Linked DNA regions of Homo sapiens. The protein of the gene in region 3 binds, or shares a complex with, the protein of the main gene of each other region. Each region holds a gene or a part of one and is shown on either strand. Other genes may lie near its edges. The genes, in order: EIF3K, EIF3J and EIF3I.

Region 1 (3,651 bases), on a different chromosome or scaffold from region 3:
CAACTCAGTGCATCCTTTGCCTCCCAGGTTCATGTAATCCTCCTGCCTCGGCCTCCTAAGTAGCTGTACGTATCGGGGGGCCTGCCCCGATAATCACGTAGGTTCTTTTCTATATTCCTAAGCATTGGCTGGCTTGAGAAATAGAAGGACAGAGTACAAAAGAGAGAAATTTTAAAGCTGGGCGTCCGGGGGAGACATCACACATTGGTAGGATCCGTGATGCCTCACAAGCCACAAAAACCAGCAAGTTTTTATTAGGGATTTTCAAAAGGGGAGGGAGTGTGCGAATAGGTGTGGGCGACAGACATCAAGTACTTAACAGGGTAATAGAATATCACAAGGCAAGTGGAGGCAGGGCGAGATCACAGGACCACAGGATCAAAGCGAAATTAAAATTGCTAATGAAGTTTTGGGCACCACTGTCATTGATAACATCTTATCAGGAGACAGGGTTTTGAGATCAACCGGTCTGACCAAAATTTATTAGGCGGGAATTTCCTCTTCCTAATAAGCCTGGGAACGCTATGGGAGACGAGTTTATTTCACCTCTGCAATCTCGACTATAAGAGACAGGTACGCCCCGGGGGGCCCGTTCAGAGACCTACCCCTAGGTGCGCATTCTCTTTCTCAGGGACGTTCCATGCTGAGAAAAAGAATTCAGCGATATTTCTCCCATTTGCTTTTGAAAGAAGAGAAATATGGCTCTGTTCTGCCCGGCTCACCGGCAGTCAGAGTTTAAGGTTCTCTCTCTCATTCCCGGAACAATTGCTGTTATCCTGTTCTTTTTCCAGGGTGCCCACATTTCATATTGCTCAAACACACATGTTGTGCAATTTTTGTAGTTAACGCAATTATTACAGGGTCCTGGAACGATATACATCCTCCTCAACTGACAGGATTAAGAGATTAAAGTAAAGACAGGCATAGGAAATCACAAGGGTATTGATTGGGGAAGTGATAAGTGTCCATGAAATCTTTACAATTTATGTTTAGAGATTGCAGTAAAGACAGGCATAAGAAATTACAAAAGTATTAATTTGGGGAACTAATAAATGTCCATAAAATCTTCACAATCCACGTTCTTCTGTCATGGCTTCAGCCGGTCCCTCCGTTTGGGGTCCCTGACTTCCCGCAACAGGTACGCACCACCATACCCAGCTAATTTTTGTATTTTTAGTAGAGACAGGGTTTTGCCATGTTAGCCAGGCTGGTCTCGAACTCCTGACCTCAGGTGATCCACCCGCCTTGGCCTCCCAAAGTGCTGGGATTACAGGCGTGAGCCACTGCACCCAGCCTAATTTTTGTATTTTTAGTAGAGACGGGGCTTTGTCATGTTGGCCAGGCTGGTCTCGAACTCCTGATCTCAGGTGATCCGCCCATCTCGGCCTCCCAAAGTGCTGGGATTACAGGCTTGAGCCACCCACCTACCCACCCCCACCGCCACCTTCTGTTGTCCTCTTTTGCAAGGGAGGAAACCGTCAGCCCCTCAGTTTCCTTTCTCTGCTCCTCAGCCTTTCAGTGCCTCTTAATCTCTCTCTTCTCTGCTCCTCGTGTCATAAATAAGCAGTCCAAGGTCACTCAGCAGGGAAGTTTAAACCGAGGCAGTCTGGCTCTGGTTCCTTAGCCACTACTCCAGACCACTGCTGCTGTTCTCATTTGTTTATAAATCACTTAGCAGTGTCTGCCCCATTGGGTAGTTGTGAGCATTAACTGTCCCTGTTCACAGAGGAGAAAGGTAGGCTCAGGGAGGTGAAGGTTACACAGCTGGGAAGCACTGGGACTGGGATTGGAACCCAGGCATGTCCAATTCCCAAACTCCAGAATAAAGCAGCTGCCTGGCACCTGGTGAGGATTGGGGACTTGGAGGTGCCACTGTGGCCACGTCTCTTGTTCTTTTTCTTAGGTACCAGTTCAACCCAGCCTTCTTTCAGACCACGGTCACCGCCCAGATCCTGCTGAAGGCCCTCACCAACTTGCCGCACACAGACTTCACCCTGTGCAAGTGCATGATCGACCAGGCACATGTATCCTTCCAGCACTGGGGCCGGGGGGTGTGTGGGAAGGGGTCAGAGTCAAGGTGCATGAATTCCCAGGGAGATGGTCTGTGGGTGTATCCACAAACAACAAGTGCCTGCTCTGGTCCAGCGTGGCAAGGTGCTGGACAGTGCTGGGACACTGGTGACTGAGACAGTCCTGGGCCCTGTCTTCACAAAGTTGTCGCAGTCCAGTGAAGAGTCAGTGATAGACTGGAGTGGTCAGGGTTGGGTTACAAGAGTCACAGCAGCCGGGCACAATGACTCAGGCCTCTAATCCCGGCACTTTGAGAGGTCAAGGTGGGTGGATCACCTGAGGTCAGGAGTTCGAGACCAGCCTGGCCAACATGGCGAAACCCCATCTCTATTAAAATACAAAAAATTAGCCAGGCACAGTGGCACACACCTATAGTCCCAGTTACTCAGGAGGCTGAGGCAGGAGGATCACTTGAAGCTGGGAGATGGAGGTTGCAGTGAGCCGAGATTGCGCCACTGCACTCCACCCTGGGTGACACAGTGAGACTCTGTCTCAAAAAAAAAAAGAAGAGCCAGAGTAGGCACCTGACCATTTGGGTGGGGGAATATGTGGACATGAACACAGCCATCTGTATTTACATTCTATAGAACAATGTCTGGAAAGGTGGAAAGGTACCCAAGAATTGGAAATGACTGTTACCTCCCAGGAAGGATGGCTGTGAGACAGGGAAGGGAAGACCTATTTTGCCACTGTTCACTCTTCTGTATTTTTAACTAGAAACTATAAACCAGGGCCTCCTGGAGGAGGGAACATCTAAAACATAACGAGTTAGGTGGAGGGGTAGGCAAAGGTGATCCAGGCAGAGAGGACACTCATGGGCTAAAGGAAGCAGAGCTCGGTGCTGTCTTTCAGGAATGGTAGAGGAAGCCTGACATAGGAATGATTTAAGGTGGGTTTTTTTTTGTTGTTGTTTTATTTTATTTATTTTATTTTTTTTTTGAGACGGAGCCTTGCTCTGTCACCCAGTCTGGAGTGCAGTGGCGTGATCTCGGCTTCCTGCAACTTCCACCTCCCAGGTTCAAGCTATTCTGTCTCAGCCTCCTGAGCAGCTGGGACCACAGGTGCATGCATGCTACCACGCCCAGCTAATTTTTGTATTTTTAGTAGAGACGGGGTTTTGCTATGTTGGCCAGGCTGCTCTCGAACTCCTGACCTCAGGTGATCCACCCGCCTCAGCCTCCCAAAGTGATAGGATTACAGATGTGAGCCACCGTGCCCAGCCTATAGGTTTTATTTTATTAGTAATAATAGTAGGGTTTTTTTGTTAATATTTTCTTTTTTTTTGAGATGGAGTCTTGCTCTGTCATCCAGGCTGGCGTGCAAAGGCGTGATCTTGGCTCACTACAACCTCCTCCTCCCGGGTTCAAGTGATTCTCCTGCCTCAGCCTCCCAAGTAGCTGGGACTATAGGCACGTGCCACCACACCCAGCTGCTTTTCGTATGTTTAGTAGAGATGGGGTTTCGCTATGTTGGCCAGGCTGGTGTCGAACTCCTGACCTCAGGTGATCCACCCGCCTTGGCCTCCCAAAGTGCCAGGATTACAGGCGTGAGCCACCAGGACTGGCATGTCATTTCTCATCT
Region 2 (3,651 bases), on a different chromosome or scaffold from region 3:
CAGAGAAATGTTTGTTGGTATTTTTTTGTACTGCATTAAATTTATAAATTAATGTAGGGGGAATTGACATCTTATAATGCTGAGCTGCCCTAACCAAGAATAAGAACTGTCTTTCCATTTGATCAAGTACATTTTTGTACCTTTCAGAAGTGTTTTAAAGTGATTTCCCTATTAGAGGCTCTGCGCATTTCTCTTTAGATTTATTCCTAAGTATTTCATCTTGTATGTTGCTATTATAAATAGGGTGTTTTCCTATTATGTCCTCTAGGTGGCTATTATTTGTGTATAAAAACCTATCGGCAAGACCCAGTCTCTGCAAAAAAAAAAAAAATTAAAAAATTAACTGGGCAACGTGGCATGTGCCTGTAGTCTCAGCTACTTGAGAGGCTAAGGTGGGAAGATCACTTGAGCCCAGGAGGTTAAGGCTGCAGTGAGCTATGATAGTGCCACTGCACTCTATCCTAGGCAACTCACTATCATAAAAACCCTGTCTCAAAACAAATAAACAAAAATGACTATTGGCTTTTTTATATGTTAATATCCTGCTACCTTACTGAATTCATTTATCACTTAAGTTAGATTTATCGTTGCTTCTCTAGGGTTTTACAGGTATGCTACCTTATCTGCAAACAAAAGATAGCTTTACTTCTCTACCAATCCTTAGGCCCTCACAAGTGATTTACCTAATTGGGCCAGCTAAACCTCTAGTGCAATGTTGAACAGCAGCAGAAGTAATGGGCATCCTTGCTTTCTTGATGGAAATGCCTCTATTGTTTCCCCATGAATTGCTATGCATCCCAACAAATTTATGCAATAAAATTTACCAGACTTTTTTTTTTTTTTTGAGACGGAGTTTCTTGCCCAGGCTGGAGTGCAATGTCACGATCTCAGCTCACTGCAACCTCCACCTCCTAGGTTCAAGCGATTCTCCTGCCTCAGCCTCCCCAGTAACTAGGATTACAGGCATACACCACCATGCCTGGCTCATTTATTTTTAGTAGAAATGGTTTTTTTTTTTTTTTTTTTTTTTTTTGAGACGGAGTCTCGTTCTGTCGCCCAGGCTGGAATACAGGGACGATCTCAGCTCACTGCAACCTCTGCCTCCCAGGTTCAAGTGATTCTCCTGCCTCAGCCTCCCGAGTAGCTGGGATTACCAGCACATGCCACCATGCCTGGCTAATTTTGTATTTTTAGTATAGACAGGATTTCACCATGTTGGTCACACTGGTCTCGAACTCCTGATCTCATGATCCGCCCGCCTCGGCTTCCCGAAGTGCTGGAATTACAGGCGTGAGCCACCGTGCCTAGCCCCAGTCTTTTCTTTCATTGCCTCTGGATGGATTTCAAGTCAATTAGAAAGTCTTTTCTTGTTTTTTTGTTGTTTTGTTTTGTTTTGTTTTGTTTTTGAGTTGGAGTTTTGCTCTGGTTGCCCAAGCTGGAGTGCAATGGCATGATCTAGGCTCACTACAACCTCCACCTCCCGGGTTCAAGCAATTCTCCTGCCTCAGCCTCCCAAGCAGCTGGGATTAGACATGCACCACCATGCCTGGCTAACTTTGTATTTTTAGTAGAGATGGGGTTTGTCCATGTTGGTCAGGCTGATCTCGAACTCCCAACCTCAGGTGATCCGCCCACCTCAGCCTCCCGAAGTGCTGGGAGTACAGGCATGAGCCACTTCGCCCAGCCAGAAAGTCTTTTCTTACACCTAAGAATTCACCCACAATTTCTTCTAGAATGTATAGGGTTTCATTTTTTTTTTTATTTAGATCTCTGATTTGGAGTTTTTTTCTTGTGTTATGATATGCAACATGGATCTAATTTCATTTTTTTCCCAAATGGCTACCCAGTTGTCACAGCATCATTTATTAAAAACCCTTTAATAAATAATGGTTTTTTTCCCTGGGCTATGGTTTGAATGTGTCCTCCAAAGTTCATGTGATGAAATCTCCAATCCAACAGTGTTGAGAAGTAGGGTCTTTTAGAAATGATTAGAGGCAAAGCCCTCATGAATGAATTATTAATACCTTTATATTAGGAGTAGATATCTGATAAAAGGATGAGTTCTGACACCTCCTGCAATCCTTTGTGCTCTTTTGCCCTTCTGCCCCAGGATAATAGAGCAAGAAGGCCCTCGCCAGATGCCAGCACCTTGATACTGGACTTCTCAGCCTCCATAACCATAAGAAATAAATCTGTTGTTTATACAATACCCAGTCTATTGCATTCTATTGCAGCAAAAAACATTTTAAGATACCTTGTGACTTACCATATACTAAATTTTCATATGTACTTGGTCTATTTCTGGGCTTTTGATCCTATCCCACTAGTCTACTGTCTCTCCATATAACGGTACCATACTGGGTTTTTTTGGTCTTGTTTTTTGAGACGGAGTTTCACTCTTGTCGCCCAGGTTGGAGTGCAATGGCGCGATCTCAGCTTACTGCAACCTCTGCCTCCTGGGTTCAAGTGACTCTCCAGCCTCAGCCTCTGGAGTAGCTGGGATTACAGGTGTCCACCATCATGCCGGGCTAATTTTTGTATTTTTAGTAGAGACGGGGTTTCTCCATGTTGACCAGGCTGGTCTCGAACTCCTGACATCAGGTGATCCTCAGCCTCCCAAAGTGCTGGGATTGCAGGCGTGAGCCACCATGCCCAGCCGGTACTGTTTTAATTACAGAGGCTTTACTTTAATGTCAGCTAGAGCTAGTCCTTCCTTGTAGGTTTTCAGATTTTTTAGTGTTTTCTTGGCCTTTCTTGCATGTTTTGTTTTTCCATATGAACCCTCATATCAACTTATCTAACTTCATAAGAAAGCTTCTCCATTAGCAGTTAGGACAACCTAGCTGAAATCAATAGCCTCTCTGAAAGTGATTCAGTTATTAATAAATAAAAACTGAGAGAACTTTATAGTTCTTACTTCCCCCCAAATGTAAAAAGCATCCTATACTCTGGCCAATAGCTCATTTATTTCAAGTAGTATTCCATACAACATAAGCCTGGTTAATGAATTAAGTCTATATAATTCTAAAGCCCACTATTAAAAAGGAGTCAGGCCGGGTGCGTGGCTCATGCCTGTAATCCCAGCACTTTGGGAGGCTGAGGTGGGCGGATCACGAGGTCAGGAGTTTGAGACCAGCCTGGCCAACATAGTGAAACCCTGTCTCTACTAAAAATACAAAAAATTAGCTGGGCGTGGTGGCAGACACCTATAATCCCAACTACTTGGGGGCTGAGGCAGGAGAATCACTTGAACCCAGGAGTGGGAGGTTGCAGTGAGCCAAGATTGTGCCACTGCACTCCAGCCCAGGTGACAGTGCGGCGAGACTTCGTCTCAAAAAAAAAAAAAAAAAAAAAAAAGAATCAAGGCCGGCTTACGCCTGTAATCCCAACACTTTGGGAGGCCAAGGCAGGCAGATCACCTGAGGTCGGGAATGCAAGACCAGCCTGACCAACATGGAGAAACCCCGTCTCTACTAAAAATACAAAATTAGCTGGGTGTGGTGGCACATGCCTGTAATCCCAGCTACTCGGGAGGCTGAGGCAGGAAAATTGCTTGAACCCAGGAGACAGAGGCTGTGGTGAGCCGAGATCGCGCCATTGCACTCCAGCCTGGGCAACAAGAATGAAACTCCGTCTCACAAAAAAAAGTCA
Region 3 (3,500 bases):
ACCCACTCTACCTCCTCAATCCCTTGGCCATCTGTGGAGCCCCAGAGCCTGCGGCTGTGGCAAGGTGAGCTCCACACCTTCTCCCCTGGGTATTACCCCTCTGCTCAGCGTCCTGACCTGTCTTCCTCCTCCTCAGGCCTGTTTCTGCGCTGGACCTGCTCACCTGAGCCTGCAGAAGCTGCATGGGGGAAGAGTGTGGCAAATAGTGACAGGAAGGGAGAAGACAGAAGCCTCTCAGCCAACTGCTTCAGCCGAGCCCCTATTCTAAGCACTGGCTCCTTGGATAGCAGCTGAGATGTTCCTGAAACCTCTGCAGGCCCCTTAGGACCTTTACACCTTGGATGAGGGTGCCTGCAACCCAGGTTAGCCAAAAGTACTGAGGGTCTTAAGTTTGAAGTGTCCAAAGTATAGGGAGGTCTCAATAATAAAAGTCTCCATGATCAGCATCAGCTTGCTGGGGTGTCAGTGAAAAGGAAAAATGATGAAACAGACACCACAAAATATCTGACCAGAAGCCATTTATTACCAAACCAATTTATTTCTTAGAGTTCAAAACCTTCTGTGAGAATCTTCTCTGGCCTGGTTGGAGATCCACCTTCTTCTTTTTTTTTTTTGAGACGGAGTTTTGCTCTTGTGGCTCAGGATGGAGTGCAATGACGTGATCTCAGCTCACTGCAACCTCTGCCTCCTGGGTTCAAGTGATTCTCCTGCCTCAGCCTCCTGAGTAGCTGGGACTATAGGCGTGTGCCACCATGCCTGGCTAATTTTTGTATTTTTAGTAGAGACGAGGTTTCTCCATGTTGGTCAGGCTGGTCTTAAACTCCTGACCTCAGGTGATCCGCCTGCCTTAAAAAAAAAGTGGTGGGATTACAGGCATGAGCCACCACGCCCGGCAGGAGATCCAGCTTCTTAAGCCTCAAACTCAAATTCGAAGTACTGTGGGTCGAAGTAATGGATACGGACGTAACCATCTTCGCCGCCGCTGCTGTAGCTGGAAAAAGATAGCCAGGCACCAGTCAGGTGCTTACTCTGGGAAAGGCAGAGACCCAACCCAGGCTTAGGTCAGCTGCTTCACTGGTACCCTACCTCTTGCCATCAGGATGGAAGGCAACACTGTTGATAGGTCCAAAGTGACCCTTGACTCTTCCAAACTCTTCTTCAAAGGCCAAATGGAAGAACCTGGAGGAAAAGGGACACAATTAATTCACTTTCTATCTTCTTCCAAAACACTTTGGAGGTGGCACTCCCCAAATGCAAATTGTTATTATTATTTATTTATTTTGAGATGGAGTCTTACTCTGTCACCCAGGGTGGAGTACAGTGGCGCAATCTCGGTTCACTGGAACCTCCCCCTCCTGGGTTCAAGCAATTCTCCTGCCTCAGCCTCCTGAGTGGTTGGGATTACAGATGCCTGGCTAATTTTTGTATTTTTAGTAGAGATGGGGTTTCACCATGTTGGCCAGGCTGGTTACGAACTCCTGGCCTCAAGCCGCCTTCCTTAGCCTCCCAATGTGCTGGGATTACAGGCATGAGCCACCACACCTGGCCTCAAATGCAAATTGTATCACAAAAAATAAAGCAGAAGCCGAGGCGCAGTGGCTCACGCCTGTAATCCCAACACTTTGGGAGGCCGAGGCGGGTGGATCACTTGAGGCCAGGAGTTTGAGACCAGCCTGGCCAACATCTCTACTAAAAATACAAAAAGCAGCCAGGGACGGTGGCCATGTACCTGTAATCCCAGCTACTCAGAAGCTGAGGTAGAAGGATCGCTTGAGCCCAGGAGGTTGCGGTGAGCAGAGATGGTGCCACTGCACTCCAGCCTGGGCAACAGAGTGAGACCCTGTCTCAAAAAATAATAATAATAAAGCAGAAAAATTGAGATAAGAAGTGAATGTGAACAAAATAAGATGGAAATTGGTGGCTGCGTGCCATGGTTCACGCCTGTAATCCCAGCACTTTGGGAGGCTGAGGACAGAGGATTGCTTGAGCCCAGGAGTTCGAGGCCAGCCTGGGCAACATAGTGAGACCCTGTCTCTTACTTTTTTAACTTTTTTATTATATGGGGAAGACTGGACCCAGATGTCTGCCTGAATACATAACTAATACTTATAGAGTGCCTACTATGTGCTGGGCAGTGCTTAAAGAGCTTAATAAATATTAACTGAATAATTTAATCTGCATAATTTTATGTTAAGTATATTGTCATTGTCTCATTATACAGTAGAGGAAATTTAGACATAGAGAAATATAATGAAGGCTGGGCACAGTGGCTCATGCCTGTAATCCCAGCACTCTGGAAGGCCAAGGTGGGCGGATTACTTAAGGCCAGGAGTTCAAGACCAGCCTGGCAAACATGGTGAAATCCTGTCTCTACTAAAAATACAAAAATTAGCCAGGCGTGGTCATGGGTGCCTGTAATCCCAGCCACCCAGGAGGCAGAGGCAGGATAATTGCTTGAACCCGGGAAGCAGAGGTTGCAGTGAGCAGAGATCGCGCCATTGCACTCCAGCCTGGGTGACAGAGCAAGACTCCGTGTCAAAAAAAAAAAAAAAAAAAAAGGCTGGGCACGGTGGCTCATGCCTGTAATCCCAGCACTTTGGGAGGCTGAGGCGGGCGTATCACGAGGTCAGGAGATCGAGACCATCCTTGCTAACACGGTGAAACCCCGTCTCTACTAAAAATACAAAAAGAAAATTAGCCAGGCATGGTGGTGGGCGCCTGGGCCGCTGAGGCAGGAGAATGGCGTCAACCCGGGAGGCAGAGCTTGCAGTGAGCAGAGATCACGCCACTGCGCTCCAGCCTAGGCGACAGAGCGAGACTCCATCTCAAAAACAAAAACAAACAAAAAAGGTACACCACATGAGATTTTAATTTGGAAGAGCTCTCTTCTTCTTTACCTGGCCTCAAACTTGCCAATCCTGGTGGAGGTTGTGGTTACATCCATGGCTTCCTGACCACCGCCCAGGACCACCTGAATGGAAGAAGAAACTCTAGATGGGACCAATGGACACCAAGTCCATTTTGTGTTTTTCTGCTGCCATATACATTTTTAACATCTCACACGGCTCAATGGGAGGATACCAAAGGTAGGGGATGATCAGACACTTCTGCCACCTCCTGCTGGCTGCCCTGGGGCTATTCAATCCTTCCAGCTTTGTCACTCCTCTGGGCATCTCCTCTCTGCCTGACATCATTTCCCCCACAATGTTGTAGCCCAACTTCTGGACAAGCATCTAGAACTTGGAAGCTTCCTGAGGCTTCAGCAGGAAGGCAGGTGGGGTTCTCTTACATGGTCATAGTTGGGGGAGAGGGCAGCTGAGTTGACAGGACGTTCTGTCCGGAAAGTCTTCTGATGTTCAAGAGTTGTGGAGTCAAAAAGCTGGAGAGAGAAGGCAGGGGGGAAATCTGTAAAGAGCTTTCCTGGGGGAAGTCGGGCAGGGTGAGCTGTGCAGCCGGAGGGAGGGAGCAGCCCTGCCAGACCGCTGCCCAGGCTCACCTTG

What was found.
Region 1: EIF3I (region 3) and EIF3K share a complex: the UniProt entries of both Homo sapiens proteins name them as parts of the eukaryotic translation initiation factor 3 (eIF-3) complex.
Region 2: EIF3I (region 3) and EIF3J share a complex: the UniProt entries of both Homo sapiens proteins name them as parts of the eukaryotic translation initiation factor 3 (eIF-3) complex.

What each region holds. Positions count from the first base shown.
Region 1 is NC_000019.10:38,622,174-38,625,824, forward strand, and holds part of EIF3K (eukaryotic translation initiation factor 3 subunit K), read left to right. Parts: intron 1-1,903; coding exon 1,904-2,024; intron 2,025-3,651. UniProt on the Homo sapiens protein: Component of the eukaryotic translation initiation factor 3 (eIF-3) complex, which is required for several steps in the initiation of protein synthesis.
Region 2 is NC_000015.10:44,547,147-44,550,797, reverse strand, and holds part of EIF3J (eukaryotic translation initiation factor 3 subunit J), read right to left. Parts: intron 1-3,651. UniProt on the Homo sapiens protein: Component of the eukaryotic translation initiation factor 3 (eIF-3) complex, which is required for several steps in the initiation of protein synthesis.
Region 3 is NC_000001.11:32,228,606-32,232,105, reverse strand, and holds the end of EIF3I (eukaryotic translation initiation factor 3 subunit I), read right to left. Parts: coding exon 3,497-3,500; intron 3,380-3,496; coding exon 3,290-3,379; intron 2,972-3,289; coding exon 2,898-2,971; intron 1,180-2,897; coding exon 1,087-1,179; intron 992-1,086; coding exon 910-991; 3' UTR 502-909; downstream 1-501. UniProt on the Homo sapiens protein: Component of the eukaryotic translation initiation factor 3 (eIF-3) complex, which is required for several steps in the initiation of protein synthesis.